7 separate regions of the Homo sapiens genome follow, and all the other regions are linked to region 1. Evidence: fine-mapped expression QTL. A gene starts in region 1. Each other region holds a variant in brackets. All regions are shown on one strand. Distances are between the middles of the regions. Region 1 holds the start of CARHSP1 (calcium regulated heat stable protein 1). Region 2 has its middle 19 kb from the start of ABAT. Region 3 overlaps PMM2 (phosphomannomutase 2). Region 4 overlaps PMM2 (phosphomannomutase 2). Region 5 overlaps PMM2 (phosphomannomutase 2). Region 6 overlaps PMM2 (phosphomannomutase 2). Region 7 holds the start of TMEM186 (transmembrane protein 186).

Region 1 (4,065 bases):
GAAAGCACACAATGCAATGATTTTTAGTATATCCACGGACTTGTGCAACTATCGCCACCATCACTTTCAGCACATTTTCATCATCTCAAAAAGAAACCCCTGTACCTTTTAAGTATCAACCGTCTAGCCCGCACCCCCACCCCCAGCCTCTGGCAACCCTTAATCTACTTCCTGTTTCTAGAGATTTGCCCATTCAGAACATTTCATACAGATGGAATCACACAAAGTGCGGCCTTTGTGTGGCTTCTTTCTCTTAGCATATTTTCAAGGTTCCTCTATGTTGTAGCTTGCATCAAGATTTCATTCCTGTTGATGAGTGAATAGTTGTCTACTGTATAGATACACAACATTTTGTTTATCCTTTCATCACTTGATGGACATCTGAGCTGTTTCTCCCTTTTGGCTACTATGAGTAATACTGCTATAAATCTTACTCTGTCACCCAGGCTGGAGTGCAGCAGTGCAGTCACGGATCACAGCAGCCTCGATCTCCTGGGCTCAAGGGATCCTCCCACCTCAGCCTCCCCAGTAGCTGGGACTACAGGTGGGTGCTACTACTCCTGGCTAATTAAAACTTTTTTTTTTTTGGTAAAGAAGGGGTCTTACTATGTTGTCCAGGCTGGTCATAAACTCCTGGGCTTAAGAGATCCTCCTGTCTCGGTCTCCCAAAGTGCTGGGATTACAGGCGTGAGCCACCACGCCCAGCCCAACAAGTAAATCATTATTTATCTATTTATTTATTTTTGAGATGGAGTCTTGCTCTGTCGCCCAGGCAGGCTGGAGTGCAGTGGCACTATCTCGGCTCATTGCAAGCTCCGCCTCCCGGGTTCACGCCATTCTCCTGCCTCAGCCTCCCGAGTAGCTGGGACTACAGGGGCCCGCCACCGCGCCCGGCTAATTTTTAATATTTTTAATAGAGACGGGGTTTCCCCGTGGTCTCGTTCTCCTGACCTCGTGATCCGCCCGCCTCGGCCTCCCAAAGTGCTGGGATTACAGGCGTGAGCCACCGCGCCCGGCCTATTTATTTATTTTTAACTTTTTTTCCCCCCCGAGACGGAGACTCGCTGTCGCCCAGGCTGGAGTGCAGTGGCATGATCCTGGCTCACTGCAACCTCCACCTCCCGGGTTCAAGTGATTCTCCTGCCTCAGTCTCCCAAGTAACTGGGATTACAGGCACCCGCCACCAAGCCCGGCAAATTTTTGTATTTTTCATAGACACGGGGTTTCGCCATGTTGGCCAGGCTGGTCTCCAACTCCTGAGCTCAAGTGATCCTCCTGCCTCGGCCTCCCAAAGAGCTGGAATTACAGGCGTGAGCCACCGCACCCGGCCTCAAGTAAATTTTTGTGTGGACAAACATTTTTATTTCTCTTGGGCGCGCAGACACCTAGGAGTGGAGTTGATGGGTTTTATGGAGACTCCAGGGCTCGTGGTTTGAGGAACCGCCGGGCTTTTTCCACAGCAGCTGCGCGGTTGTTCCCACCAGCCGTCTAGGACGGTTCCTTGCCTGGCTTGGACTAGTTGGTTTCGCTGCTGGGCCTTTTCCCCAGTGGCCCCAATAGGGGCTGCAGAGTGAGGCAGGCACAGTCCTCACCGCCGCCTCCGGGGGCCCTGTTGTCCCGGGCGAGCTCCGGGGACCTCTCTCCTTCCCCGCGCCCCTCAAATACCAAGCTGACCCTGGTCCCGGGATCTAGGCTCGCCTTCAGGGGCTGCTCTCGACTGGCCGTGCCCATGGGCTGGTCGCCTCTCTGTGCCTCAGTTTCCTCTCCTGCAAAACAGAGGTAACATTTTTTACCTCCAAAAACAGAGGACTCAAGGAAGGCTAGAAATGAAACAAGAGAAGAGAACAAAATCAAAATCCCCAACGAGAAAACAAAACCCTGTTTTTCTGGTGTGTGTGTGCGTGTGTATTTTTTCTTTCCCTTTTCCTCCTTTCTGTTTTTTGCTTGTTTTCTTCCGTCTCTCTTTTCATTCCTTTATTTCCTTTCTGCTAAAAGTGACACCCTCCGGGATTATACAGATTTTAGAGCCAAAGGCAGGTGGGAGCCGCACCTGGCGCGCGTGGCGAGGGGAAGGAACTGCACGGGCGCAGGGACACAGTTCCCCCACTTTGCAGGGGCGTTTTCTGCTGGTGGGTGCAGCCCAGCTCCGCCCCGCCCCGCCCCGCCCCGGCCCCTACGTCCCGCGCTCTGCGTTCCGCTCTCCCGCCAGTCTAAGGCGCGGACACAAAGGTCCTGTCCGGGCCACTCCCGCCCCGCCCGCCCCCACCGTCCCGGGCTCCCTCCCGCAGCCCCATTGGCCGGGAGCTCCTGGGGGCGGGGATCGGCGCCCCACCCCCCCTCGGGCCACGCCCCCTCCCCAGCTCCGCGCTCTCAGTCGGAGCGAAGCGGCTGGCGGAGCAGAACGGATTGCAGGGTAGGGAGCTCTTCTCGGGGACCCCAGGATAGGCGCCCCTGGCCCGCGGCCCCGGGAGCCGCAGGGGTGGGGCCTCGGCCTCCTCTGCCTCCATCGTCCCCCATCCTGCAGGGTCTTCTAGCTCGGCAGAGGAGGGCTCCGGGCTGGGTTTCTCGGGGCCTGTTTGGGGAACGCGGGTTGCTCCTCCCCAGGGGAAGGGGTGGGTGTGGCAACAGCGGCAAGGATTCTAGGCGGACGTCGGGTAGTACTTCCCGCCTGGCCACCTGTTCTCTGCGTGCAGGGGAAGCTCTTCCCGCCCTCCCCGCTGCTTTTGCCTTTGGGCGGGAGCCCTGGACGGGGGACTCGCCGGGCGGTGGGGCGAGGCGCGGGGGGCGTCGCACGCGGGAAGCAGAGCCACCCCCCGCCGGGCCTGGCCGCGCCAGCTGTGGCTCGAGGTTGGGACGGCGGCCAGGCCCGGCGGGGGAGGTGGGGAGCCGTCCTGGCGCCGCGCGATTAGCCGCATCTGGGGGAGGAGGAGCCGCCGGGCGCGCTGGGCCCGGGTGTTTGCGCCCGGATGGGGGTGGGGGTGCCTTAGGCGCTGGAGAAAAACTTCACCCGCGCCCACAGGCCCCCTTTCCGCAGGCTGCGCTGGCGGTTCAGGTTTGCAGGCCGGAAGTGAAATGTTCTTTTTTGATTTTTAAAAAGGAAGCCTCCGGCCCTATGGTTTTCTGGGGTTGGAGTGGATGTGTGTGCTGGGGGAGGCGGAGACGTCCCGCTCCAGGCAGGGCCTTGGGTCTTAATAGGTGGGGAAATCTCTGCCAAATAGGAGGCCTCTCGGAGCCTCAGTTTCCCCATCTGCAGACTGGGCTCTGACTTCTTCTGGCATGAGAGGGTGTGTGAGAGTAAAAGGAGGCAGCTAGCCCCGTGCCGGGAGACACGTAAGCTACTGTTTTTTAACTTGCTGTTTTGATATTTCTCAGTCTCTCTGTGCCCAGTCTTGCTTGCCCCTGTCATTTGCTGCCACTCTGAAGCCAGAGGGAACTTAGAAAAACAATCCGCTTAGATCTACCCCACGCTGAAAATCGTCCACCGAAGTCCCATTGTCGTCTAAGTCCCCAACTTCTCAGCAGGGCTTCCTGTTATCTTCCGCCACTACCTTCTCCAGCCTCTCTCTGCCTCTGTTCTCCCTCCCTTCGGGCCTTTGGCCCTCCTCTGGGCTCGGGGTCCTCCTTGGAGACCCCACCGCCCTCTGCACTCCCTGGGTGGCCTCGGTGATGACCGTGAGTTCTCGATGCTGGTCCCTTCAGGGCAAGAAAGAGGCGCAGAGCCCGGCTGGGAGTAGATGTTTTCAATGAGCTGAGCTAGGCCTGGCGTGGGGCCATGGGGTGGGGTTGAGGGTGGTTGACGGTGGGTCCCCTAGGTAGGGGATCGGTCTTTGTTCCACCGAGTGGCAAAGCCAGCGCATTTGGTTTGTGTTCCATCAGCAGGGGCAGGAATGGGAGGGAAGGTGATTTCAGATGGGCCCGTGCCTGACACTTCCACCATCAGCCGCACTATTGTGGACTGAGCCCGCCGTGCGCTTGGCATTTTCGCGGCACCATCTGCACAGCGTCCGAGCCCTGCGACGCAGCACCGCTCCTGTCCCCTTTGACAGATGAGGAAACTCGGGTGGG
Region 2 (4,065 bases), 210 kb after region 1:
TGCAAAGACCCCTTTCTCAAATGTTTCCAAGTTTCCCATTCATAGGTTCTGGGGTTTAGAACGTGGACATAGCTTGTTTAGGGCCACCATTCAACCCACTATAGTTTCAAAAAGGTGGAAAACATCCTTTGTCTTCAGTTTCTCAGGACTGACTGAAATTGTTTTGAACTCCATATAGTAGACGAAAAGGAACCTGGTTTTATGGGGGACAAGTCTTCCTGCCTTTAGTTAAAGAGGGACAGGACAAAGGCTGAAACCACAGGCAAAGCTATTGTTGGTGTTTTGCAAACTTCAGCCCCCAAGATCACCATCTTTGTGACATTTGCTATTCCTGCTTCCCACTTACATTATTACTTAATATTGTATTTAACTACGCACAAATTATTAACTTAGCCTCAACCGAGAATAATATCCTTCATGTCCCTGGTTTTCAAATGCAAGATACATTTTTCTCCCAGAATACACAAAACAGGGCATGATGGTGTGGTTCAACAACTGGACTAGCTTGGAGGGTGACTTCAAACAGGTTTTGTGAGGTCTTGTAATGACATCGATCCTCCCTGAAGTGGCATCTTCCTCTCTTATCTTGCTGTAAGAAGGGCTCAGCTGTGGTTTAGATGTCTGTTCCCTCCCAAACAACTCATGATGAAGTGTATTCCTATTGTAACAGTATCAAGAGGTGGGACTTTTAAGAGGTGATTAGGGCAAGAGGACTCTGTGGATTAATCCTGTTATCACCAGAGTGGGTTTGTCTTCTCGGGAGTGGGTTCCTTATAAAAGGACGAGTTTGACCCATGTTTACTTCTCTCTCGTTCTCATCCTCTCTTTACTGTTCTACCATGTGGCGCCTTCTGCTGTGCTATCATGCAGCAAGAAGGCCCTTGCCAGATGCTGGCCTTTAGCTCTTGGACCTCCCAGCCTCAGAACTGTGAGCCAATACATTTCTGTTAATTACGTTACCCAGTCTGTGGTGTTCTGTTATAGCAGCACAAAATGGAGTAAGACAGCTTCCTGGGTTGTCAGGAGGGCATTGGAGCCGCAGGGCACAGCCCAGCCCAGGCCAGCACTGCTGGAACATCACTCACTGCAGATGAAGGTGGAGTGACAGGGACTGGCTGCTCTCCTGCTGAGGTAACTGGAGTCTCAAACCTCCTCTCCCATCTTCACAGCCCACACAGCTGTTTTCTCAGAAGCAGAGAATCTTACTCTGCAAGTTCACATTAGAATCCCTGTGTCCCAGGTTTTGCCTAGTGGCTGTGCTGGAGCTTAATCTTTGCTTCTCCAATAGTTAGTTGTGCAGTTGGTGCCTGAGGTCTACTCACGCAGGTCTGTGGGGGAAGTGGGGAAAAGGCCCTCAGGGTACAAATAAAATCATTTAGGAAGTGGGGGTGGAGGAAAGGACTAATCCCTGGAAGTGGCATCCTGCTACATACATGTCAATAGGATAAACTTCAAAATGCTTTTCTCTTAAAACCTCTCTGCGCCAGGAACAGTGGTGCACACCTGTAGTCCTAGCTCCTTGGGAGGCTGAGGTAGAAAGACTGTTTGAGCCCAAGCAGTTCGAGGCCGTGGTGCACTATGCTCATGCCTGTGAATAGCCACTGCACTCCAGTGGGCAACATGGCGAGACCTGTCTCTAAAACAACAACAACAAAAACCTGCCACATACCACTGGTATCCTAACTCGCCATACTTTGGAGAACACTGTGTTAGAGCAAAGATGTGGTCATCAGGAGAATTTACCTTGGTGGAGGGCATGGTGGTGAGTCTTCAAGAACTATGTCTTGTCAGAAGACACAGTCCTCCAAGCCAGAAAGCTAGGCATCACCCTCAGCCCTCTCCTCTTCCTGAATCCCCCAAATGCCTCAGAAATAAATCTTAGTTTGCACATTTAGGTGGATAATAGATTGAACGGCTTTGTTTAGAAGAGCACCTGGATGGAAGTTGGTGCTCAATGGACATCAGCTGTGGGTATGAGAACACGATCTCTGCATCACAATGCTGGCGGGCTTGCCCACTTCCTTCCAGATTCAGTGCCTCTTCAGGGCAAGGATGTGTCCTTTGCATCTCTCTTGTGGGCAGCCTCTGAGATGGTCCCCAGTGATCCCACCTTTGGGTATTCCCACTCTGTGTAATCCCCTCCCCTTGAGTGTGGGCTGGACTTAGTGACTCACTTCTGAAGAACTGAATGTGACAAAAGTGACGGAGTGTCACTTCTCAGATTAGGTTACCTCCCAGTAAACTCTCTCTATTCTTGTATGCTTGCTCTGAGAAAGCTGCTGTCATGTCCTGGCTTTATCAGAGGCCCCCTAGAGAGGCCCACATGGCAGAGAAATGAGAGAAGTCTGTGGTCAGCAGCCAGTGAGGAACTGAGGCCCTTAGACCCATAGCAGGTGAGGAACTGAATCCTGCCACCAACCACAAGAGG[G/T]AGCCTCAATGTGGATCCACTCTTAGTTGAACCTTCAGATGAGACCACAGCTGAACTCCTTGTAGCCTTAGCAGAGGTCTTAAGACAGAGGCACCCAGTTAAACTAAGCCCAGATTTATGACCCACAGGTACTGTAAGATAATAAATGTTTGTTGTCTTAAGCTTCTAAGTTTTGGGGTATTTTGTCATGCAGCAAATAGATAATACAGTTCCTTTCCCCAATGCCCCACACAGGGCTTGGCTTATTTTAGAGTCTTCTAACTATTGGGAAGAGGCCCAGCAGGTTTGAGTTACTCCCTTTTTTCCCTTCCCACATGGTGGCTGGATTTATGTCCACCTTCAGTTTGCTGCTATGTCCATTAGCGTTCTCTGTAAAAATGTAATGGGCTAGAAACATGGATAAAACTTATGGTGGAACTTCAGCCTTTAGTACAGATCACGGCCACACTCCCCTGGGTCTGGACATGACAAATTTCCCACTGGGGAACCAGACAACATGGAGTTCAGATGAGCCTGGCATAGTCTCATTCTATGCATTCTGAGGCTCAGTTGGAGGAGCACCAAGCCCAGGGTCTTGTAGCCCCAGACCCACCCAAGGGATGATTTGCCCTCTGAACTTTTCTCTGAGTCTTTCTAGAACCTTTGGGCTAAAATAAATTTTATTTCCCAAAAGCTTGGCTTGATCTATCTGTTTTCAAATACAGCTCTTGTTAGAGAGTAGCATTTTGGCTGTGTGTGTATGCATGCGTGCATGTGTGCACATGTACTTAATTTCTTTTAACTTTATTTTTAGTAAAAAAGACACAAAAATAACCCATGTTTGTAAAAACAAAATACATGTATATAACATAAAGGGCAAAGTCTCATCAATTCCATTCCCCCAATTCCATGCCCTGGGGTTAATCAAGGTTAACCATGTGGTATGTAACTTTCCACCTATAAACACATACCTTAGAGCTGCCATTTATAAGTTATGTGATGATGAGCAAATTACCAGGAGTGGTGAAGAGCCTGGGGGATAAATTCTTAGACTATAAAGCCAAACTTCTCAGGTTCAAAGCCTGGCTCTATCCCTCACAACTTATGTGACCTTGGGAGAGTTACCTGGCCCCCTTGCCTACTCCCTCCTTAGTTTACCCATCTATGAAGTGGGGCCTCACGTGAGTGGAGGGATATTTACTGAGCTAATGTATCTAAAATGTTTAGGACAGTTGGCTATCACCATCTCGATCCTCTGAGATCTCCCATTTTGCTTGAGCCTGTTTTTTCTTTTTTTGAGATGGGGTCTTGCTCTGACACCCAGTCTGGAGTGCAGTGGTGTACTCATGGGTCACTGCAATTTCAGCTTCCCACATTGAGCTTGGTTCTGAAGTCAGGCTTTCCACAAAATTCTTCCCTGATATCATCCTTCTTCCTGGGTTCTCACTACCCAGGTGTTTAGATATAGGAGATGGTCCCAGTGTTCCTGTCTCTAAGTCCTGGTCCTACTGAAACGTTTCAGTAGCTTGAGCCTTGGAAATGATGGGGAAGCAGGTTTAACTAACTGAGTCTTAGTTAATTAAGGCTTTACTATGTATGGTAGCTTTAGAATAAAGTTGGATTTTAATCATTACCACTCAGCCACTTAAAATCTCCAA
Region 3 (4,065 bases), 47 kb after region 1:
GTGTTTAACTTTCTTTGGGTTTATAGTCGTATAACTATGTTATTAGTATGTGTTACAAAATTGTGTAAGACTCCTATAATTCTGATACGTCTCAGTATATGTTATGAGTAATAATTATAACTGTTCTGTTAAACTGTGTGTCACAGAGATGACCAGATTTCCTTGTTGACTGCATCTTTAACTACGGCTGTCCTGAGACTTTTGTTACCCACAGGCAGTTGCTGTCTTGGTTTTATCCTTTTCAAAAGGCAGTTTATAATCAGATATAGTACTCTAATGGGTACTCTTGAATGCAGGTCTCTGATAACTTTACAAATTGTGCCATTGGAATGGAGGAAAAAAAACTTCTAGGATCCTCATGGAGAGCTGATGTGTTAAACATTGTTAATCCTTTTGTTTTTCAGAGTCCAGAAAACTATTTTTCTTTTGAGCTATTTACAACTTTAACAATTGAGTTAAAGTATACTTCTGTGAGCAAAATTTAGAGCATATTGCCTTCTCTCTGATTTCTCCAGAATTTGGAAACTATTTGTGAGTATTCTCAACTTATGGCAGTATAATTATTTGTGCAAGGGCAGTAACAATCTGTTTTCTTTTGTAATAGGATACAATTAGAGATGCCGGTTACTTTACCAAGGCTTTGACTGGTACGACATACTTTCAAATATAAACAGACTGCTTTAAGGAACAAAGTTGACTAACAGAGCCAATAGAAGTCCCTTGGAAAAGCTGGCCTCATACCTTGTCTACACAGTCCCTGTACGGGGTTCCTGAACTGTGGTAAATAAAGACCGTCACTTTTTGACAGGCCCAGGAGCCCCAAATTATCTTAGGACCATGAGAAGAAAAAATTTCACCCAACTCATACAGGTTTATCTTTGCAGGTATAGTAGATAAATCCATGGCTGGGCTCGAGGCTTTAAAAAAGTCTAACCTGAGATTTCTTATGGAACAAAGTTTCAGCAAAGCCAATTTTAAAAACAGCCTATCTGGCAAACAATTATTCTTGCTTTACTTTATACAAATAATCAGGCCAAGCTTAATAAGACTATGACTTATTTTGCAAGTAAACTTGTCCTACTACGGTTTGTCTTTAATAAAAATAAGGATGGGAGAGGGAAAAAAGTGTTTCAAAAAACTATGATACACCCTGCTGTTAGATTCTAGTCTTGTCCTTTGTTCTTGAGTTTTTATTATTTCCTGCAATTTGGACTAAATCCTGAATTCTCTGTGGGCTACAATTCCCAAACTAATGCTTTCAATTTTTTTTTCCCACTTTTCTGACTTGGACTCAATTAAATTGCTACTACCTTTTTCCTGAGGCCCTGCAAGCTGAAGCTTATTCTTTGTAATACAGATGACAAAAACATGTCAAATTGCCACTGCCTTCCTCCTCTATAACTAAAGATGCCTAGCCCATCTCCAGTGCCATCTCTTGATAATGGAAACAGCTGTTTAACTGAACTGATCTAGTCTTAGGACTAGGAAAACTGACTAAAAAGATAAGGATGAGTATATTTAAATTTCCTCTTTCCTGTCTACCCCAATCTGTCTGTCTAACAACCTCTGACCCAAATCTCTCTCTGCTAGTAACCCCATGTCTGATTGGTTCTTGGAGCTATTTACCTGGGTCCCTCAGAGCTTAGGATCAATTCTACAAAAGCTTCTGAAGCCAGGACTTTCACTCTTTATCCTAGGACTCATTTGTTAAAACTATAGATGAGAATACTAATGCCTTTGTCATGCAGGCCTTCAAACCCTAACCAGGAACCCCTGAGTAGAAGCAGACAGCTGCAAAGTGGTTTCACTCCTCCTACCTTTGGGTCAACACCTACCCTGACTACGCTCCCTGTCAG[C/G]AGAAAGAAGCTAGAGCGGTTATCACTCTTTTCCCATCTTCATATCCCACAGTATGAAGTATTAGGAATAAGGTATTATAAAACCCAACAGGAGGAACTGAAACTGTCTTTGCAAAAATTTTAACTGAGAAAATTATGATGGTGACCTAAATGACTCCATCTTGCTTCTAACTTCCAAGATGTCCTTGTTCATTCCTGGATGCAGACCAAACTAACCTTGGGAGGAATTCAGTTTATAGTTTAACTTTGAAACAATGCCGGTAACAGCCCTTTCCCTGAAATAAACCCCCTTCTTGCCTGGGGACCAGTCTGCCTTTGTAGGACTAACAAATTAGCTACAAGAGTCTGAACCTCCCCAAATTGCTCCTGAAAATAATATCACTGTCATAAAACCTAAGATTGTGCCTGAGATATTTTGTAGACCCTGTGTTCTGATGCAGTATCTGATGCCACACAGACAGGTAATCTGGCTCAACCAGCTCTTTGATCCCACCAGGAACAGAAGATAGCAAGAAAAACTCACTTCCACCCCCTATGATTTCATCTCCAAGCCGACCAATCAGCAATCTCCACTTCCCAAGCCCCTACCCAGCAAGTTATCCTTAAAAACTCTGATCCCCAAATTCTTGGAGAGGCTGATTTGAGGAATAATAAAACTCCAGTCTCCTGTACAGCCAGCTCTGCGTGAATTACCCTTTGTCTACTGCAACTCTCCTGTCTTGATAAATCGGCTCTTGTCTAGGCAGTGGGCAAGGAGAACCTGTTGGGCAGTTACAGGGCCAATGAGACAAGAGCCTGCTCTGAAATGGCGTAGAGCAGTAGTGGCTCTCCCTGGCTAGAGTCCCTGGGGATGCCTTAAAAATGCTTGTTTGGGGCATGGCCCAAGCCCAGGGTCATGATGTTTTGAAAGTGATCAGGTGATTCCAATATATATCCAGGGCTGAGCACCAGTGACTTAGAATCTAGGAAAAAACACCCCTTGGCTTGGGGGCGAGGGTGGAACCTGAGCTGGCCAAGGGGCTAGTGGCCCTAGGGCGAGTGACCCTTGGGTCTGTTGACGGCTCTGAGCACAGCCCTCTCATTTCACCTCTCCGGCCTTCAAGGGCAGAGGAGACAGCTCTGTGACGGATCTGGGCCTGGAATGCCCACAGGAGATGCCGATTCTGCGGACATCAAGGGGCTCCCTGGAAGGCCAGCCCCACTCCAGGGGTTTGAAGCCAGTGTCTCCCTGAATGAAAGAGCTTCAGCACAGACACAGGCAGGGATGCTCACTCTGTGGGCTGGTTGTTAGCCACAGTCCTATTCCTGGGACCAACACCCAGGGCCATGGACTCTGTGGAGTCTGGCACTCAGGAGGAAGGTGGGCTAGCAGGAACATCTGAAGCTCGTGGCTCCCATGCATGACACCCTGCTTCCTGGCCTCCCACACAGGAGCGGGTGGGACATCTCCACCAGGCTGAGAACCTCTCATCAATTTCTGCCAGTCAGTTCTGGAAGCTGACTGTGGGAGCGGCAATTCACTCAGGGTCCCTCCAGGAGTGAGGGACTCACATGTTAAGAAGCTAAGTCTGCCACCAGCCACACAAGAAGACCTGGGTCTCAAATCATGTGGTCCCAGCAATAAGTAGTAAGACAGATCTATCCACAGAATCCATTCTGTGCCCTCCTTAGCCTTGAGTCCTGAAAGAGCTACAGATGCTAGGCATGGTTAAGTCCAGGATCGCAAAGGCCAACTGCCATCCAAAGCCTAACTTGGAACCTGAGGACAGGAGGACATGGTTCACTAATTCACGCTCTAATGAACTGTTGGAAGGTGTGTAGGAAGGTGCTCACTCACAAGGATGGCCCTTCACTGAGGGACTTGGCAGGCTCCAATCTCTTAGGAAAATCTCAATAACAGATGAGCCTTTGAATAACTTTCTTAGAAAGTGAAGGAAGCAGACGCTGGTTGTGGACCAGGCCAAAGATGCATGTCCCAGCTGCCTTTCCTGAGTCAGGCCCTGCGTCACCCACTTTCCTCAGATGCCTTCACTTCATTCTCATATGACTCCTTCAGAAGAGCAACTGTGGTCGGGAGTGGTGGCTCACGCCTGTAATTCCAGCACTTTGGGAGGCCAAGGTGGGCGGATCACTTGAGGTTAGGAGTTCAAGACCAGCCTGGCCAAGATGGTGAAACCCCGTCTCTACTAAAAATACAAAAATTAGCCAG
Region 4 (4,065 bases), 23 kb after region 1:
TATGTTTCCACAGACCCACCAAGAGGGAGGGTCCAGGCACAGTTTTTCTTTCTGTATCATCCTAGAATGATGGGGAAATTTCCGCCAAAACTACATGATTGCACGTATCAGGGTGGGTATTAGACTAGGGGGCTGGGGGTGGGTGGGGAAGACCTTTTGTGCGAGGCATTCCTCTGGGCCATTCTTGACAAGAGTTTTCTCCTTCCTTCTGGAAGTTTCTGGCACTGGAGGTGGAAGTCCAGACTGCACATGCCTGGCATAGCATGCAGAGCCTGCCTAGGCTGCGGGTGGGTGAGCACGTGTGGGAGGACCCTCGGCTCTGGCCACCGAATGCCCTATGCTGGCTTGTCAGCCGGGACCCCGCCCCTCCCGCTCCCACGTTAGGAGAACAGCAGTTCACAGATCCTGCGCGTGTCCTCAGGCGCTGTCACGGAGTAGCCCATGGTTCTGGGGTCTGTGAAGATCTCATGGTCATTGCCACCCTGGAAAGACACGAAGTACAGATGAAGGCTCCCCCTCGTCTGTCCCGGGCCATTGCTGATGTGACCCTGGAGTCCAAAAGTACCCAAAAAACAAGATTTAACTGGGCAGGGAGAGTTTCTTCAGCTACCTTCCTCTTAGTTTCCAGGAGAGGAACGTGAGTACAATTGTTATTAAGAAGAGATTTATAACCTTCTCTTGAACTGCAATTTGGCTTGGAACACGTAATTATGCCTATGAGAGCCATCACGATGTTCTTGCGAAGATCTGTCTAAGGCTTATTTTTCTACACAGAAGGCATCAGCGAGTGACAGTATTCTCACAGCCATCAGTTTTTTTTTTTTTTTTAGCTGTACCTACGCTTTTCTAACAAGTCACAAGGGAGCGTCAGGAGGGCAGAGGGCCGGGAGCAGGGCTGCCAGGGATATTCCTGTGATGAGGGACGTGGCGACATCAGCGGTGATGGCAGCCACTGGCCATGTGTCACTCTGCACACTTGAAACGTGGCCAATGCAATGGAGGAACTCAGTTAATTTGATTTTAATTTAAACAGCCCCACGTGGGCCGGGCATGGTGGCTCATGCCTGTAATCCCAGCACTTTGGGAGGCTGAGAAGGGTGGATCACTTGAGGTCAGGAATTTGAGACCAACCTGGCTAACACAGCAAAACTCCATTTCTACTTAAAATACAAAAATTAGCTGGGCATGGTGGCGCACGTCTGAAATCCCAGCTGCTCGGGAGGCTGAGGCAGGAGAATTGCTTGAACTCGGGAGGTGGAAGTTGCAGTAAGCCGAGATCGCACCACTGCACTCCAGCCTGGGCGACAAAGGGAGACTCTATCTTAAATAAATAAATAAATGGCCCCACATGACTGGGGTCTGAGCTGCTGGCTAAAAGCAGGGTCTCTGGAACAGGTGGCCTGGGTCAGATGCTGGTTCTACCACTGAGCAGCAGTGTGGCTGCGCCAACTCCCCATCTCCAAAATGGGGTCATGATGGAAGCTTGCTCACAGCTCTGTGGCCAGAAGTTCAGGAGATGATGGTTGGGGTCACACCTTGGTAAGATGACGAAACCGAGGCCTCAGAAAGTCTGCAAGGGCCCATGTCTAGGAGGACCTGGGCATGTTCTGCTGGGGTCCTGTGCCTGAGTTGAGTGCTCC[C/A]ATCTGTGTCCCCATCACCCCCACCAATCCCACTGGGCTCACGTTAATGAATCAGGTTATCTGCCGCTCCCGCAACCCCGAGCCCTGCAGGAAAGCCCCCGTTTTTCTCATGGAATTCCTTTATTTCCCTCATAAAATTGGATAATCACTCTAACTCAAAACCTTAAAATAATCTACGATTGCTTTACAATACAATGAACACAACCGTAGAAAAAAGGGATTTTTCTCATAAAGCACCGAGCATGAAGCCAACGTGGAAACCATGATTTTGTACCAAAAATCTGACATCCTTTAAAAGAATTAATTGCCTCTGGAAATGAGTGTTTTCATTTTTGCAAGAACCTATCCCCAGGCAGATGGCCTCCTCAGGTGGAGGTGAATTTCAGGCTTCAGGAGGGAACGTCGCTGGGCCCAGGGAGTGCTGGGTGGAGTCAGGTTAGGAGGCCATGAACTTGGCATCTCTTCCAGTCCAGCCACTTGGGAACCTGTCAGGGCCTTGTACTGGCCTTACACAGTTTTGTACCAGGCCTGGGGGCCTTCAGACAGACCTGAATTGCATGGCCACCATCTGCTACCTACACATGTGAAATCAGTTCTGGTAATTCTGATTTTGCCTTTTTTTTCCTTCGGACATAGGGTCTTGCTATGTTGCCCAGGCTGGGCTCGAGCGAACCTCCTGCCTCAGCCTCTCGAGTAGCTGAGACAAAGACTGTGTCCAACAGTGCCAAGCTAGTTCCAGTAATTCTTCTAATTAAAAAAAAAAAAAAAAAGATTTCTTTCAGGAATGGCACAGTGGGTAAAAGTCACAGAGAACCTAACAAAGGCACAACCTAGCTGGGTGTGGTGGTGCGCACCTGTAATCCCAGCTGCTTGGCAGGAGAATCACTTGAACCTGGGAGGCGGAGATTGCAGTGAGCCAAGAACAGACCACTGTACTTCAGCCTGGGCAACAGAGCGAGACTCAAAAGAAAAAAAAACAAACAAAAAACCAAAGGCACAACCAACTCTCACATGCCTCAAAAGAGCCAAACACCCTCCCCGCCTCAGTGACTGAGGAGGGGAGTCAGTATTCACACATTAACACAACACACCTTTCTAGAACACCTACTGTCAGGCCTCTGAGCCCAAGCCAAGCCATCGCATCCCCTATGACTTACACGTGTACATCCAGATGGCCTGAAGTAACTAAAGATCCACAAAAGAAGTAAAAATAGCCTTAACTGATGACATTCCACCATTGTGATTTGTTTCTGCCCCACCCGAACTGATCAATGTACTTTGTAATCTCCCCCACCCTTAAGAAGGTTCTTTGAAATTCTCCCCACTCTTGAGGATGTACTTTGTGAGATCCACCCCTGCCCGCAAAACATTGCTCTTAACTTCACCGCCTATCCCAAAACCCATAAGAACTAATGATAATCCACCACCCTTTGCCGACTCTCTTTTCGGACTCAGCCCGCCTGCACCCAGGTGAAATAAACAGCCATGTTGCTCACACAAAGCCTGTTTGGTGGTCTCTTCACATGGACGCGCATGAAATTTGGTGCCGTGACTCAGATCGGGAGACCTCCCTTGGGAGATCAATCCCCTATCCTCCTGCTCTTTGCTCCATGAGAAAGATCCACCTACGACCTCAGGTCCTCAGACCCACCAGCCCAAGAAACATCTCACCAATTTCAAATCCAATAAGCAGCCTCTTTTTACTCTCTTCTCCAACCTCCCTATCCCTCACCGTCTTTCTCCTTTCAATCTAGGCGCCACACTTCAATCTCTCCCTTCTCTTAATTTCAATTCCTTTCATTTTCTGGTAGAGACAAAGGAGACGTTTTATCTGTGGACCCAAAAAACCGGCGCCGGTCACGGACTGGGAAGGCAGCCTTCCCTTGGTGTTTAATCATTGCAAGGACGCCTCTGATCATTCACCCACGTTTCAGAGGTGTCAGACCACGCAGGGACACCTGCCTTGGTCCATAACCCTTAGCGGCAAGTCCCGCTTTTCTGAGGAAGGGGCAAGGACCCCAACCCCTTCTTTCCGTGTCTCTACCCCTTCTCTGATTTTCTGGGGCAGGGGCAAGAACCCCCCAACCCCTTCTCCTTCACCCTTAGCGGCAAGTCCCGCTTTTCTGGGGGAGAGGCAAGTACCCCAAACTCGTATCTCTGTGCCCCAATCCCTTATTTCCATGCCCCAACCCCTTTCCCGCTTTTCTGGAGGGTAAGAACCCCCAAACCCCTTCCCTCCATGTCTCTACGCTCTCTTTTCTCTGGGCTTGCCTCCTTCACTATGGGCAACCTTCCTACATTCCTCCTTCTTCTCCCTTAGCCTGTGTTCTCAAGAACTTAAAACCTCTTCAACTCATACCTGACCTAAAACCTAAATAAATGCCTTATTTTCTTCTGCAATGCCGCTTGACCCCAATACAAACTC
Region 5 (4,065 bases), 53 kb after region 1:
GCCTCCTGGAGGCTGTGCTGCTGGAAGAGGCTGCTAAGCCTCAGGGCCTGGCTGAGAAATGGCTTTTTTACTGACAGCCTCAGCTCAGGATCACTTCCCTGGACGCCGGCAAAAACATCAAACTTCATTAGGAAAGGAAAAAACCCCAGCTTTCTAAATGTCTATCACTGAAAATGCAAAGTGTAAGGCTAGTATTTGGATTGCTCTGCACCTGAAGTTTCAAGAACTGATAGGTTGTTTGAAGGTTTACATGGCTGGACTGCTAATTTCCATTTCTAGAAAACCGCTGACGAAAAGGATCAGGGATGGGGGCAAAGAATCGTGCAAGAATGTTCACCACAGCATTAGTTATGATAGCAAAACCCCTTAAACCACCCAACGTGCCTCTGCAAGGGAGGTGAGTAACTGATGCCTAATGAGAGAATATTATACAGCCATTAAAAATCTTCTTTGCGCCAGGCGCAGTGGCTCACGCCTGTAATCCCAGCACTTTGGGAGGCCGAGGCGGACGGATCACGAGGTCAGGAGATCATGACCATCCTGGCTAACATGGTGAACCCCATCTCTACTAAAAATACAAAAAATTAGCCGGGCGTGGTGGTGGGCACCTATAGTCCAAGCTACTCGGGAGGATGAGGCAGGAGAATGGTGTGAACCCGGGAGGTGGAGCTTACAGTGAGCCGAGATCACGCCACTGCACTCCAGCCTGGGTGACAGAGCAAGACTCTGTCTCAAAAAAAAAAAAAAATCTTCTTTGCAAAGAATATTCACTAATATGATAAAAATAAAATACGTTAAGAGAAAGAAAACTAAAACTAAAACAACATGTAAGGATCCCACTTTTGGGATCATATACATAGAAAGGCTGGGACATTGTTGGATGATTATAGGTGACTTTCTTTTTCTTCTTCGTACTTTCTCTAATTTTCTATAATGAATGCACAGGTTAATTTACAATTGGGGGAAAGCTTCCATTAAATAATACTCATTTTTTAAAACGTAGGTAAGATTTTAAAAATAGAATCCAGGCATGGTAATGCAATGGTTAAACAGAATAGAAAACCCTCTAATTCCCAAATGAAGAATTCCCAAAATAAGTCATTTTCTGATTATCCAAGAACTGCATTCCATTCTGCAAAGTCCCAACTGAGGCTTCTAAATGGCTATTTACATGAAGCAAGAATGTCATCATTACAGAACAATCTGCTGTCGTGTGTCTTAATAGCTCTCCTCTCTGTCTACAAGAAATGGCACCAAGCTAGAGAAGGACTGAGGAAGCTTCCGGGCATCCCTTAGATCCTAGGTGTCATTTCATTAGCTTAATTTTTTTAAAGACATGAAGTCAGACGGTGATCTTTTTCAAAGCCTGCACTGAAAGCATTTCTGCATCAAAAGCATTTCAACAAAAGGATGTGGTTATAAAACCATATGTAACTGTCATTAAGAACAAACCTGAATGCTACACCTCCTTCAAAGTACCCAGTTCATCTGGGATTTAGAACAAGATCTTTCTACCCCACTGAGAGAGAGCTTATCGTAGTGGAAAGCACACTCATTTAAACAGCAGGTATCACCAGCTGTGGTAGTGCACGCCTCTAATTCCAGCTACTTGGGAGGCTGAAGCGGGACAATTGCTTGAACTCAGGAGTTGGAGTACAGCCTGGGCAACACAGCAAGACCCTGTCTTTATTTTATTTTATTTTAAACAGCAGGTATCTCTTTGTGATCCTGATTTCAATTATTTTGGATATATATCT[C/G]TAAGTGGAACTGCTGGATCATATGGCAGTTCTATTTTTAATTTGAGGAACCACTATGTAGTTTTCCATCATAGCTATGACATTTAACATTTCCCACAACAGTGTACAAGGGTTCTAATTTCTCCACACCCTCGCCAACATTTATTTTATCTTTTTGAGACCGAGTTTCGCTCTTGTTGCCCAGGCTGGAGTACAATGGCACAATCTCAGCTCACTGCAACCTCCACCTCCCGGGTTCAAGCAATTCTCCTGCCTCAGCCTCCCAAGTAGCTGGGATGACAGGTGTGCACCACCATGCCCAGCTAATTTTGTATTTTTAGTAGAGACGGGGTTTCTCCATGTTGGTCAGGCTGGTCTCGGAACTCCTGACCTCAGGTGATCCGCCCACCTTGGCCTCCCAAAGTGCTGGGATTATAGGTGTGAGCCACCGCACCCAGCCACCAACATTAAAAAAAACAAAATTAGCCATCCTGGCCCAGTGTGGTGGCTCACGCCTATAAGCCTAGCACTTTGGGAGGTCAAGGTGGGTGGATCACTTCAGGTCATGAGTTCGAGACCAGGCTGGCCAACATGGTGAAACCCCATTTCTACTAAAAATACAAAATTAGCTGGGCATGGTGGCGGGCGCCTGTAATCCCAGCTACTCGGGAGGCTGAGGTATAAGAATAGCTTGAACTCAGGAGGCAGTGGTTGCAGTGAGCCAAGATCGCATCACTGCACTCCAGCCTGGGTGACAGAGCAAAACTCCGTCTCAAAATAAAATAAAATAAAATGGCCATCCTGGCAGGTGTGAGGTTTATCTCATTGTAGTTTTGATTTGCATTTCCCTGAACACTGATGTTGAGCCTTTTTTTATATACCCACTGGCCATCTGCATGTCTTCTTTGGAGAACTGTCTATTCAAGTCCTTTGCTCATGTTTTAAATTGTTTTTTTTTTTGCCATTGAGTTGTTGGAGTTTCTTATACATTTTGGATACTAGCCCTTTTATCAGATATATGGTTTGCAAATATTCTCTTCCCCTCTGTAGGTTGCTTTTTCATTCTGATTATTTCCCTTGCTGTGCAGACACTTTTTAGTTTGACGTTGTCCAACTTGTTTGTTTTGCTTTTGTTGCCTGTGCTTTTGGTGTCACATCTAAAATATCATTGCTTTTTCCCTATGTTTTTTTTCTAGGAGTTTTACAGTTTCAGGTCCTGTGTTTAAGTCTTTAATCCATGGGTAGATGGCCAAAAGGACGAAGTCAGGATCTCAGAGAGGTATCTGTACCCCCGTGTTCACTGAAGCATTATTCATAATGGCCAAGATACGGAAACAACTCATGTGTCTACTGACAGAAGAATGGATCAAGAAAATGGAGTATATTCTGACCGGGCACGCTGGCTCACGCCTGTAATCCCATCAATTTAGGAGGCCAAGGCAGGTGAATCTCTTGAGGCCAGGAGTTCGAGACCAGCCTGGCCAATGTGGCAAAACCCTGTCTCTACTAAAAATACAAAAATTAGCCGGGCGTGGTGGCAGGCTCCTGTAATCCCAGCCACTAATCGGGAGGCTGAGGCACGAGAATCACTTGAACCAGGGAACCAGGGAGGTGGAGGTTGCAGTGAGCCAAGATGGTGCCACTGCACTCTAGCCTGGGCGACAGAGCGAGATTCTGCCTCAAGAAAAAAAAAAAAAAAAGAAAGAAAATATAGTGTATTCATACCATGAAACATTATTCCGCCTTAAAAAATAAGGAAACTTGCCATTTGTGCCAGCATGAGTAAACTGAGAAGACATACTGAGTGAATAAGCCCCTTACAGAAGGATGAATACTGCATGATTCCCCTTGTATCAGATATCTAAAGGTGCTAAAGTCATATAAGCAGAGAAAAGAACGGTGGTTGCCAGGGACGGGGCGGTGGAGGAGGGAGATGGAGAGTTGTTGTTCAATGGGTGTAATGTCTCAGTTATGTAAGATGTGTAAGTTCTACAGATCTGTTGGACAAACAGAAGTGCCTATAGTTAACAATACTGTATTGTACACTTAGAAACTTGTTAAGAGGGAATATCTCATGTTAAGTGTTCTTATAACAATAGCAACAAAAAAATCCCAAACCGCCCCCAAAACCAAAGAGGCACAATGATTAAACTCACGAAACTGTGAGCGTTAAATATGTACAGCTTTTGCTGATCAATTATACCTCAATAAAGCTATTTAAAACATACAAAGAACAGGTAGACTTCTTCTGGTGCCACCAGCTCTGTCATTAGCCGTGTGACCTTCGGCAAATCCCTTACCCTTTATGGGTTTCAGTTTTATCATTCTG
Region 6 (4,065 bases), 34 kb after region 1:
CTGCAGGGACGCCTGATTATTTACCCACGTTTCAAAGGTGTCAGACCATGCAGGGACGCCTGCCTTGGTCCTTCACCCTTAGCGGCAAGTCCCACTTTTCTGGCGGAGAGGCAAGTACACCAACCCCTTCTCTCCGTGTCTCTACCCCTTCTCTGCTTTTCTAGGGGAGGGGTAAGTACCCCAACCCCATGTATCTCTGCGCCCCGATCCCTTATTTCTGCGCCCCAATCTCTTATATCTCTGTGCCCCAATCCCTTATTTCCGTGCCCCAACCCCTTCTCTGCTTTTCTGGAGGGCAAGAACCCCCCACCCCTTCTCCGTGTCTCTACTCTTTTCTCTGGGCTTACCTCCTTCACTATGGGCAAGCTTCCACCTTCCATTCCTTTCTTCTCCCTTAGCCTGTGTTCTTAAGAACTTAAAACCTCTTCAACTCACACCTGACCTAAAACCTAAATAAATGCCTTATTTTCTTCTGCAATTCCACTTGACCCCAATACAAACTCGACAGTAGTTCCAAATAGCCAGAAAACGGCACTTTCAGTTTTTCCATCCTACAAGATCTAAATAATTCTTGTCGTAAAATGGGCAAACGGTCTGAGGTGCCTGATGTCCAGGCATTCTTTTACACATCAGTCCCTTCCTAGTCTCTGTGCCCAGTGCAACTCGTCCCAAATCTTCCTTCTTTCCCTCCCACCTGTCCCCTCAGTCGCAACCCCAAGCGTCGCTGAGTCTTTCTAATATTCCTTTTCTACAGACCCATCTGACCTCTCCTCCTCGCCAGGCTGAGCTAGGTTCCAATTCTTCCTCAGCCTCCGCTCCTCCACCCTATAATCCTTTTATCACCTCCCCTCCTCACACCTGGACCAGCTTACAGTTCATTCTGTGACTGGCCCTCCCCCACCTGCCCAGCAATTTACTCTTGAAAAGGTGGCTGGAGCTAAAGGCATAGTCAAAGTTAATGCTCCTTTTTCTTTATCCCAAATCAGATAGCGTTTAGGTTCTTTTTCATCAAATATAAAAATCCAGCCCAGTTCATGGCTCGTTTGGCAGCAACCCTGACACGCTTTACAGCCCTAGACCCTAAAAGGTCAAAAGGCCGTCTTATTCTCAATATACATTTTATTACCCAATCTGCTCCCGACATTAAATAAAACTCCAAAAATTAGAATCTGGCCCTCAAACCCCATAACAGGACTTAACTAACCTCACCTTCAAGGTGGACAGTAATAGAAAAAAGTGGCAATTCCTTGCCTCCACTGTGAGACAAACCCCAGCCACATCTCCAGCACACAAGAACTTCCAAACGCCTGAACCGCAGCAGCCAGGCGTTCCTCCAGAACCTCCTCCCCCAGGAGCTTGCTACACGTGCTGGAAATCTGGCCACTGGGCCAAGGAATGCCCACAGCCCGGGATTCCTCCTAAGCCGCGTCCCATCTGTGCGGGACCCCATGAAAATCAGACTGTTCAACTCACCTGGCAGCCACTCCCCAGAGCCCCTGGAACTCTGGCCCAAGGCTCTCTGACTCCTTCCCAGATCTCGGCTTAGCAGCTGAAGACTGACACTGCCCAATCCCCTCGGAAGCCCCATAAACCATCACGGACGCCGAGCATCGGGTAACTCTCACAGTGGAGGGTAAGTCCATCCCCTTCTTAATCAATACGGAGGCTACCCACTCCACATTACCTTCTTTTCAAGGGCCTGTTTCCCTTGCCTCCGTAACTGTTGTGGGTATTGACGGCCAGGCTTCTAAACCTCTTAAAACTCCCCAACTC[T/G]GGTGCCAATTTAGACATTACTCTTTTAAGCACTCCTTTTCAGTTATCCCCACCTGCCCAGTTCCCTTATTAGGCCGAGACACTTTAAATTATCTGCTTCCCTGAGTATTCCTGAACTACAGCTACATCTCATTGCCGCCCTTCTTCCCAATCCAAAGCCTCCTTTGTGTCCTCCTCTTGTATCCCCCAACCTTAACCCACAAGTATAAGATACCTCTACTCCCTCCTTGGCAACCAATCATGCACCCCTTACCATCTCATTAAAACCTAATCACCCTTACCCCACTCAATGTCCCATCCCATGGCACGCTTTAAAAGGATTAAAGCCTGTTATCACTCGCCTGCTACAGCATGGCCTTTTAAAACCTATAAACTCTCCTTACAATTCCCCCATTTTACCTGTCCTAAAACCAGACAAGGCTTACAGGTTACTTCAGAATCTGCGCGTTATCAACCAAATTGTTTTGCCTATCCACCCCGTGGTGCCAAACCCATATACTCTCCTGTCCTCAATACCTCCATCTACTACCCATTATTCTGTTCTGGATCTCAAACATGCTTTCTTTACTATTCCTTTGCACCCTTCATCCCAGCGTCTCTTTGCTTTCAGTTAGATGACCCTGACACCCATCAGGCTCAGCAAATTACCTGGGCTGTACGGCCACAAGGCTTCACAGACAGCCCCCACTACTTCAGTCAAGCCCAAATTTCATCCCCATCTGTTACCTATCTCGGCATAATTCTCATAAAAACACACGTGCTCTCCCTGTTGATCGTGTCTGATTAATCTCCCAAACCTCAATCCCTTACAAAACAACAACTCCCTTCCTTCCTAGGCATGGTTAGTGCGGTCAGAATTCTTACACAACAGCCAGGACCACACCCTGTAGCCTTTCTGTCCAAACAACTTGACCTTACTGTTTTAGCCTAGCCCTCATGTCTGCGTGCAGCGGCTGCCGCTGCTTTAATACTTTTAGAGGCCGTAAAAATCACAAACTATGCTCAACTCACTCTCTACATTTCTCGTAACTTCCAAAATCTACTTTCTTCCTCATACCTGATGCATATACTTTCTGCTCCCCGGCTCCTTCAGCTGTACTCACTCTTTGTTAAGTCCCACAATTACCATTGTTCCTGGCCCGGACCTCAATCTGGCCTCCCACATTATTCCTGATACCACACCTGACCCCCATGACTGTATCTCTCTGATCCACCTGATATTCACCCCATTTCCCCATATTTCCTTCTTTCCTGTTCCTCACCCTGATCACGCTTGATTTATTGATGGCGGTTCCACCAGGCCTAATCGCCACATAGCAGCAAAGGCAGGCTATGCTATAGTACAAGCCACTAGCCCGCCTCTTAGAACGTCTCATTTCCTTTCCATCGTGGAAATCTATCCTCAAGGAAATAACTTCTCAGTGTTCCATCTGCTATTCTACTACTCCTCAGGGATTATTCAGGCCCCCTCCCTTCCCTACACATCAAGCTTGAAGATTTGCCCCCACCCAGGACTGGCAAATTAGCTTCACTCAACATGCCCCGAGTCAGGTAACTAAAATACCTCTTACTCTAAGTAGACACTTTCACTAGATAAGTAGAGGCCTTTCCTACAGGGTCTGAGAAGGCCACCGCAGTCATTTCTTCCCTTCTGTCAGACATAATTCCTCAGTTTAGCCTTCCCACCTCTATACAGTCTGATAACGGACCAGCCTTTACTAGTCAAATCACCCAAGCAGTTTCTCAGGCTCTTAGTATTCAGTGGAACCTTCATATCCCTTACAGTCCTCAATCTTCAGGAAAGGTAGAATGGACTAAAGGTCTTTTAAAAACACACCTCACCAAGCTCAGCCTCCAACTTAAAAAGGACTGGACAATACTTTTACCACTTTCCCTTCTCAGAATTCAGGCCTGTCCTCAGAATGCTACAAGGTACAGCCCATGTAAGCTCCTGTATAGACGCTCCTTTTTATTAGGCCCCAGTCTCATTCCAGACACCAGACCAACTTAGACTGTGCCCCCCAAAACTTGTCATCCCTACTATCTCCTGTCTAGTCATATTCCTATTCGCCATTCTCAACTACTCATACATGCCCTGCTCTTGTTTACACTGCCGGTTTACACTGTTTCTCCAAGCCATCACAGCTGATATCTCCTGGTGCTATCCCCAAACTGCCACTCTAAACTCTTGAGGTAAATAAATAATCTTTGCTGGCAGGACTATGCTGAATCTCCTTAGGCACTCTCTAATCAGATGTCATAGGTCCTCCCAATTCTTAGACCTTTTATACC
Region 7 (4,065 bases), 71 kb after region 1:
CTAGAAATTTAGAAAATACAAAAAACCATTTAATTCAACCTCAGTATATAAACACTTGGAGTTCAATGATTTTTCTTTAAAAAACTTTTTTAGAGTAATACATGAATGTGATTAAAATTGTACAGAAGGGTTTGTAATAGAGTGCAATCTTTTCTACTCTCACAGTGGAATCTGGACCTATTAGACAGAATCTAGAATTGGAGGAGTGGCCTTTAAAAGTCAGAACACGGTGGCTCACGCCTGTAATCCCAGCACTTTGGGAGGCCGAGGCGGGTGGATCACGAGGTCCAGAGATAGAGACCATCCTGGCCAACACAGTGAAACCCCATCTCTACTAAAAATACAAAAATTAGCCAGGCGTGGTGGTGCCTGCCTGTAGCACCAGCTACTTGGTTGCCTGAGGCAGGAGAATTGCTTGAACCTGGGAGGTGGAGGTTGCAGTGAACTGAGATTGGGCCACTACACTCCAGTCTGGTGACAGAGTGAGACTCTGTCTTAAAAAAAAAAAAAGAGTCAGAACTGTGAAAATCAGAAAATCAGAAGCACTTTCCTGAATGGCATACCCAGTGACTAGAACAGCTTCCACCTTAGCACAGATAGGAAATGGCAAACTTGACAGGAACCAATATCCTGAGGCCCAGAGACTTGTACCAGGTTGGCTGTGTGAAACTGAGGAGGTTAGTTCTTCACTGAGTGTGTTTCCTTATGTTTAAAACGGTAATAACAACTATCCTACCTGGGAAGAAAGATGGAGGAAGGTTGAGAGGGTTCAGTGATATGAAAAAGGGTGGCAATGTAAACCCTAGACCACTATGGCCCACAGACCACATTGGGCAGCTGTTTGTTTTTGTAATAAATAAATAAAATTTTATTGGTACACAGCCACTCTTATTTATATAGGGTTTATGGCTGGTTTTGCACTAAAGTTGAGTGGTTACTATAGACCACATAGTCAGCAAAGACAGAGAAGTATTTGCTATATGGCCCTTTACAAAAAATGAATTGGGGACCGGAGTTTTAGACCACTATGGGCTTTTAACAAACCCAAGTGTGTGATCACTGAATTTCAGAATCAGAAAAAGCCTTTGAAGAACTTGGGAGTTGAGCGTCATCACTAGGTAAATCAAACCTGTGGCTGAGAAGGGCAAAATGATACGTCTAAGGTCACACGCATTTGACCTGGACTTCTGGAGCACACCATTGTTACCACCAAGCGAAAACTATGAGGGGTGAGGGTAGAAGCTGAGGATAGTGAGACCATTGGGGTCCAGTCTCAAGTTGAAATGGCCAGTGTTCAGTGGCCAATTTCTGAAAAGGGGCCAGGAGAGCCTCACCTCAAGGCTGATCGTAACTGAAACTTATCTGTGCCTGTAGCAGCAAAATCTGAAAGTGGAAAGCAAGTTTCCAAGGGCCCAAAGAGGCTCTCAGCGGGCAGCCTGTAATAACCTAGGGCTCCTCCATCTCCCTAGTCCATTGCAGGGGCTGGAGATGGGTGTGGTGGAGGTGGCTACTATTTACTGAGGCCTAGTGTGTTGTGTCCAACATACTTTCAAGAACTTACACAATCTCATTTGATCCTCACAGACACCATATGGAACAGGTAACATCCCCATTTAAAGCTGTAGATGTTGAGGCTCAGAGAGGTTAATGACTCGCTGAAGGTCACACAGATGTCAAGAGGTGAAGATGAGACTCCACTAGGTCGGTTTGACCTGGAAACCTGTTTTTAATATCATGACTCACGGCACAGCCCATTGGTTACAGGA[T/C]TGGGGCCGACACATAGCTGATAAGGGGGCCTGATCTTGGGTTGAAATCCTGGTCTATCAGTCCCGAGCACTAGCGGTGAGTCCAGATTACATTTTCCAACCTAGCACAAGTTTCCTGCTCTTAAGAGTTCTTCAGCCCCGTCTCATCTTTCCAAGCACCAGAGCTCTTCAAGAGCTGGTTAGGGCCTCCCTCTCATTCCTCCAGTGCACCCAGAATAGGGTTCAGCGCCGTGAGGACGTAGGCGGTCCTTAGCCACCCCTTGGCGCCTACCCTGGGTGGTCGATAGCCCCAACTGGGAACAGCACGGGCTCCGCGTCGGCTGCCAGCAGCCCGCCGGCCGCCACTTACCTGCCGCGGGGCGGTGAGGGTCCCATCCACGTCGAAGAGGCAGAGCGCTGGGCCAGGCGCTGCCATGTCCCCAGTTTCTAGCCGCACCTTACAAGACACGTTGGCACGAGGAACTCGGCCCGGAACTTCCGGGTTCGGCCGCTGAGTCGCAGGGCACGTCGGGAAGAGGAGGGGACTCCGTTCCCATAACGCCTGGGAGTAGCGGCAGCCACGATTCCTGGACCGCAACTCCCAGGGTGCAACGCAGATCACGCCCGCCTTGTACATTCGAGCATGCGCTCTTAGGGGTTCCGGGGGCCGGTGGGATTTACTTCCGGCAGCAGGTGGTGGGGCCATGGTAAGGAGGCGGGTGGCGAGCCTTGAGGGGGTGATGCTCTTTGGGGTCGGGGTCAGGGCTGGGGCGGGCAGGCCCGACGCTCGGGTTTCGGACTCCGAGGATCCGTGGGAGGAAGCTCTGGCGTGTGTTACAGTTCGCTTTTCCCGGGCTTTCTCTTGCCCTCCTTGGGTCACATGCGCACAGTAGTAGTAGCTAAAACTCGCCGAGCTCTCACAGTGCATTAGGTACTAAGTTGAGGACTCTGAAACCATCCTCTGGTTCACTGTGTTCTGAGTCCCCATTTTGAAAGGCGAAGAAACCGAATCTCAGGGGTGTGGAGTAATTTGCTCACAAATTACTGTTGGAGCCAGAATTGGAATAAGAGCTTTTACTGCTTCACTACCCACCTAGTAATACCCTTGTGCTACGTGTTGGGGCCTCCCTGCCTCGCTCCTTCTCCTTCTCCGCTGTTTCCCCTTCCCCAGACTAGGCTAAGAGAAAGCAGCAGTTCCCTCCAGCACCCAAGATAGCATATGAATCAAACAGAGAATTAGAAAGTTTATTGGAATAAATATCTCACAGATTTGTTGCTCGAGTTCCCCACTAAGACACTGATTATTTAGTTTCCTGCTTGGGGAAATGTTCACACCCCCTTGTGGATACATTGTCCAGCCCAGAGTTTGTCCTCCCTGGATATGTTTTGAATTAATGACGGCCGCACCTCCTTTCCTGTATTTATTTGGAATTGCCTGGTGGAAGGAGGACTCTGCTGCACTCACTGACTGTGTGATCTTTGGTAAATATCTTACCCTCTCTGGGCTTAGTTTCCCTAGTGGTAAAGTGGAAATAGTGATAACTATCTTAGATAGCTGTTGTGATGCCCACATGAGATAGCATCTGGCTTTACCCTTCCCTCGTCTGGCAATAACGGTTACCTTGCAGGATTGGCAGAAGCCTTAGAGTATGGTGCTTTGCAGATGTTCACCGTGTGATTAATGTGGTTGAGTTCCATGAGAGAAATGGTCTACTGTCTCCCTTTCAGGCTGCCCTTCTCCGAGCTGTGCGTAGGTTTCGGGGAAAAGCTGTGTGGGAAAGGCCTCTCCATGGGCTGTGGTGCTGCAGTGGGCAGGAGGATCCTAAGAGGTGGGTGGGCAGCAGTTCACCCATCTCGAAGGAGAAACTACCAAACGCAGAGACTGAGAAATTCTGGATGTTTTACCGTTTTGATGCCATCAGAACCTTCGGGTTCCTGTCACGACTGAAGTTGGCACAGACTGCCCTGACAGTGGTAGCTTTGCCACCAGGCTATTACTTGTACTCCCAGGGCCTCCTCACTCTCAACACCGTGTGCCTCATGAGTGGGATATCGGGCTTTGCCCTGACCATGCTGTGCTGGATGAGCTATTTCTTACGGAGACTGGTTGGTATCCTGTATCTGAATGAGTCTGGCACCATGCTGCGGGTGGCCCATCTGAACTTCTGGGGCTGGCGGCAGGACACATACTGTCCCATGGCAGATGTGATTCCCCTGACAGAAACCAAGGACCGGCCTCAGGAGATGTTTGTGCGTATCCAGCGGTACAGTGGGAAACAGACCTTCTACGTCACCCTGCGCTATGGACGCATCCTGGACA

Evidence for each region. PIP is the estimated chance that this variant, and not a neighbour inherited with it, causes the effect.
Region 2: its variant is fine-mapped to the expression of CARHSP1 in whole blood (INTERVAL, PIP 0.94).
Region 3: its variant is fine-mapped to the expression of CARHSP1 in gastroesophageal junction (GTEx, PIP 0.97). The same link has a PIP of 0.9 or more in esophagus muscle.
Region 4: its variant is fine-mapped to the expression of CARHSP1 in whole blood (TOPMed, PIP above 0.99).
Region 5: its variant is fine-mapped to the expression of CARHSP1 in whole blood (INTERVAL, PIP above 0.99).
Region 6: its variant is fine-mapped to the expression of CARHSP1 in whole blood (GTEx, PIP above 0.99).
Region 7: its variant is fine-mapped to the expression of CARHSP1 in whole blood (TOPMed, PIP above 0.99).

Annotation. Positions count from the first base shown.
Region 1 is chr16:8,867,314-8,871,378 of GRCh38, reverse strand. It overlaps CARHSP1 (calcium regulated heat stable protein 1), which reads left to right and starts at 2,373. Exons shown (of 4, transcript NM_014316.4): 1 at 2,373-2,413. It overlaps CARHSP1-DT (CARHSP1 divergent transcript), which reads right to left and starts at 2,098. Exons shown (of 2, transcript NR_186721.1): 1 at 2,051-2,098; 2 at 1,340-1,766. RefSeq lists a silencer at 2,051-3,010 and an enhancer at 3,151-3,210.
Region 2 is chr16:8,653,663-8,657,727 of GRCh38, reverse strand. It overlaps a transcript of METTL22 not described here. Among named protein-coding and RNA genes, the nearest start is that of ABAT, 19 kb to the left of the region's middle. The variant G/T (reference allele first, on the strand shown) is at 2,429.
Region 3 is chr16:8,820,513-8,824,577 of GRCh38, reverse strand. The region is part of intron 7 of PMM2 (phosphomannomutase 2); the gene reads right to left. Among named protein-coding and RNA genes, the nearest start is that of PMM2, 25 kb to the right of the region's middle. The variant C/G (reference allele first, on the strand shown) is at 1,857.
Region 4 is chr16:8,844,141-8,848,205 of GRCh38, reverse strand. PMM2 (phosphomannomutase 2) reads right to left here. Exons shown (of 8, transcript NM_000303.3): 8 at 1-482. The coding sequence ends at 381. Among named protein-coding and RNA genes, the nearest start is that of CARHSP1, 23 kb to the left of the region's middle. RefSeq lists an enhancer at 1,125-1,716. The variant C/A (reference allele first, on the strand shown) is at 1,641.
Region 5 is chr16:8,814,590-8,818,654 of GRCh38, reverse strand. The region is part of intron 7 of PMM2 (phosphomannomutase 2); the gene reads right to left. Among named protein-coding and RNA genes, the nearest start is that of PMM2, 19 kb to the right of the region's middle. RefSeq lists a silencer at 3,983-4,065. The variant C/G (reference allele first, on the strand shown) is at 1,758.
Region 6 is chr16:8,833,771-8,837,835 of GRCh38, reverse strand. The region is part of intron 7 of PMM2 (phosphomannomutase 2); the gene reads right to left. Among named protein-coding and RNA genes, the nearest start is that of CARHSP1, 33 kb to the left of the region's middle. RefSeq lists enhancers at 852-1,384, 1,385-1,919. The variant T/G (reference allele first, on the strand shown) is at 1,774.
Region 7 is chr16:8,795,999-8,800,063 of GRCh38, reverse strand. It overlaps TMEM186 (transmembrane protein 186), which reads left to right and starts at 2,425. Exons shown (of 2, transcript NM_015421.4): 1 at 2,425-2,452; 2 at 3,474-4,065. The coding sequence starts at 2,450. PMM2 (phosphomannomutase 2) reads right to left here and starts at 2,225. Exons shown (of 8, transcript NM_000303.3): 1 at 2,116-2,225. The coding sequence starts at 2,181. RefSeq lists a silencer at 537-586 and enhancers at 1,442-2,136, 2,449-2,498, 2,137-2,831. The variant T/C (reference allele first, on the strand shown) is at 1,767.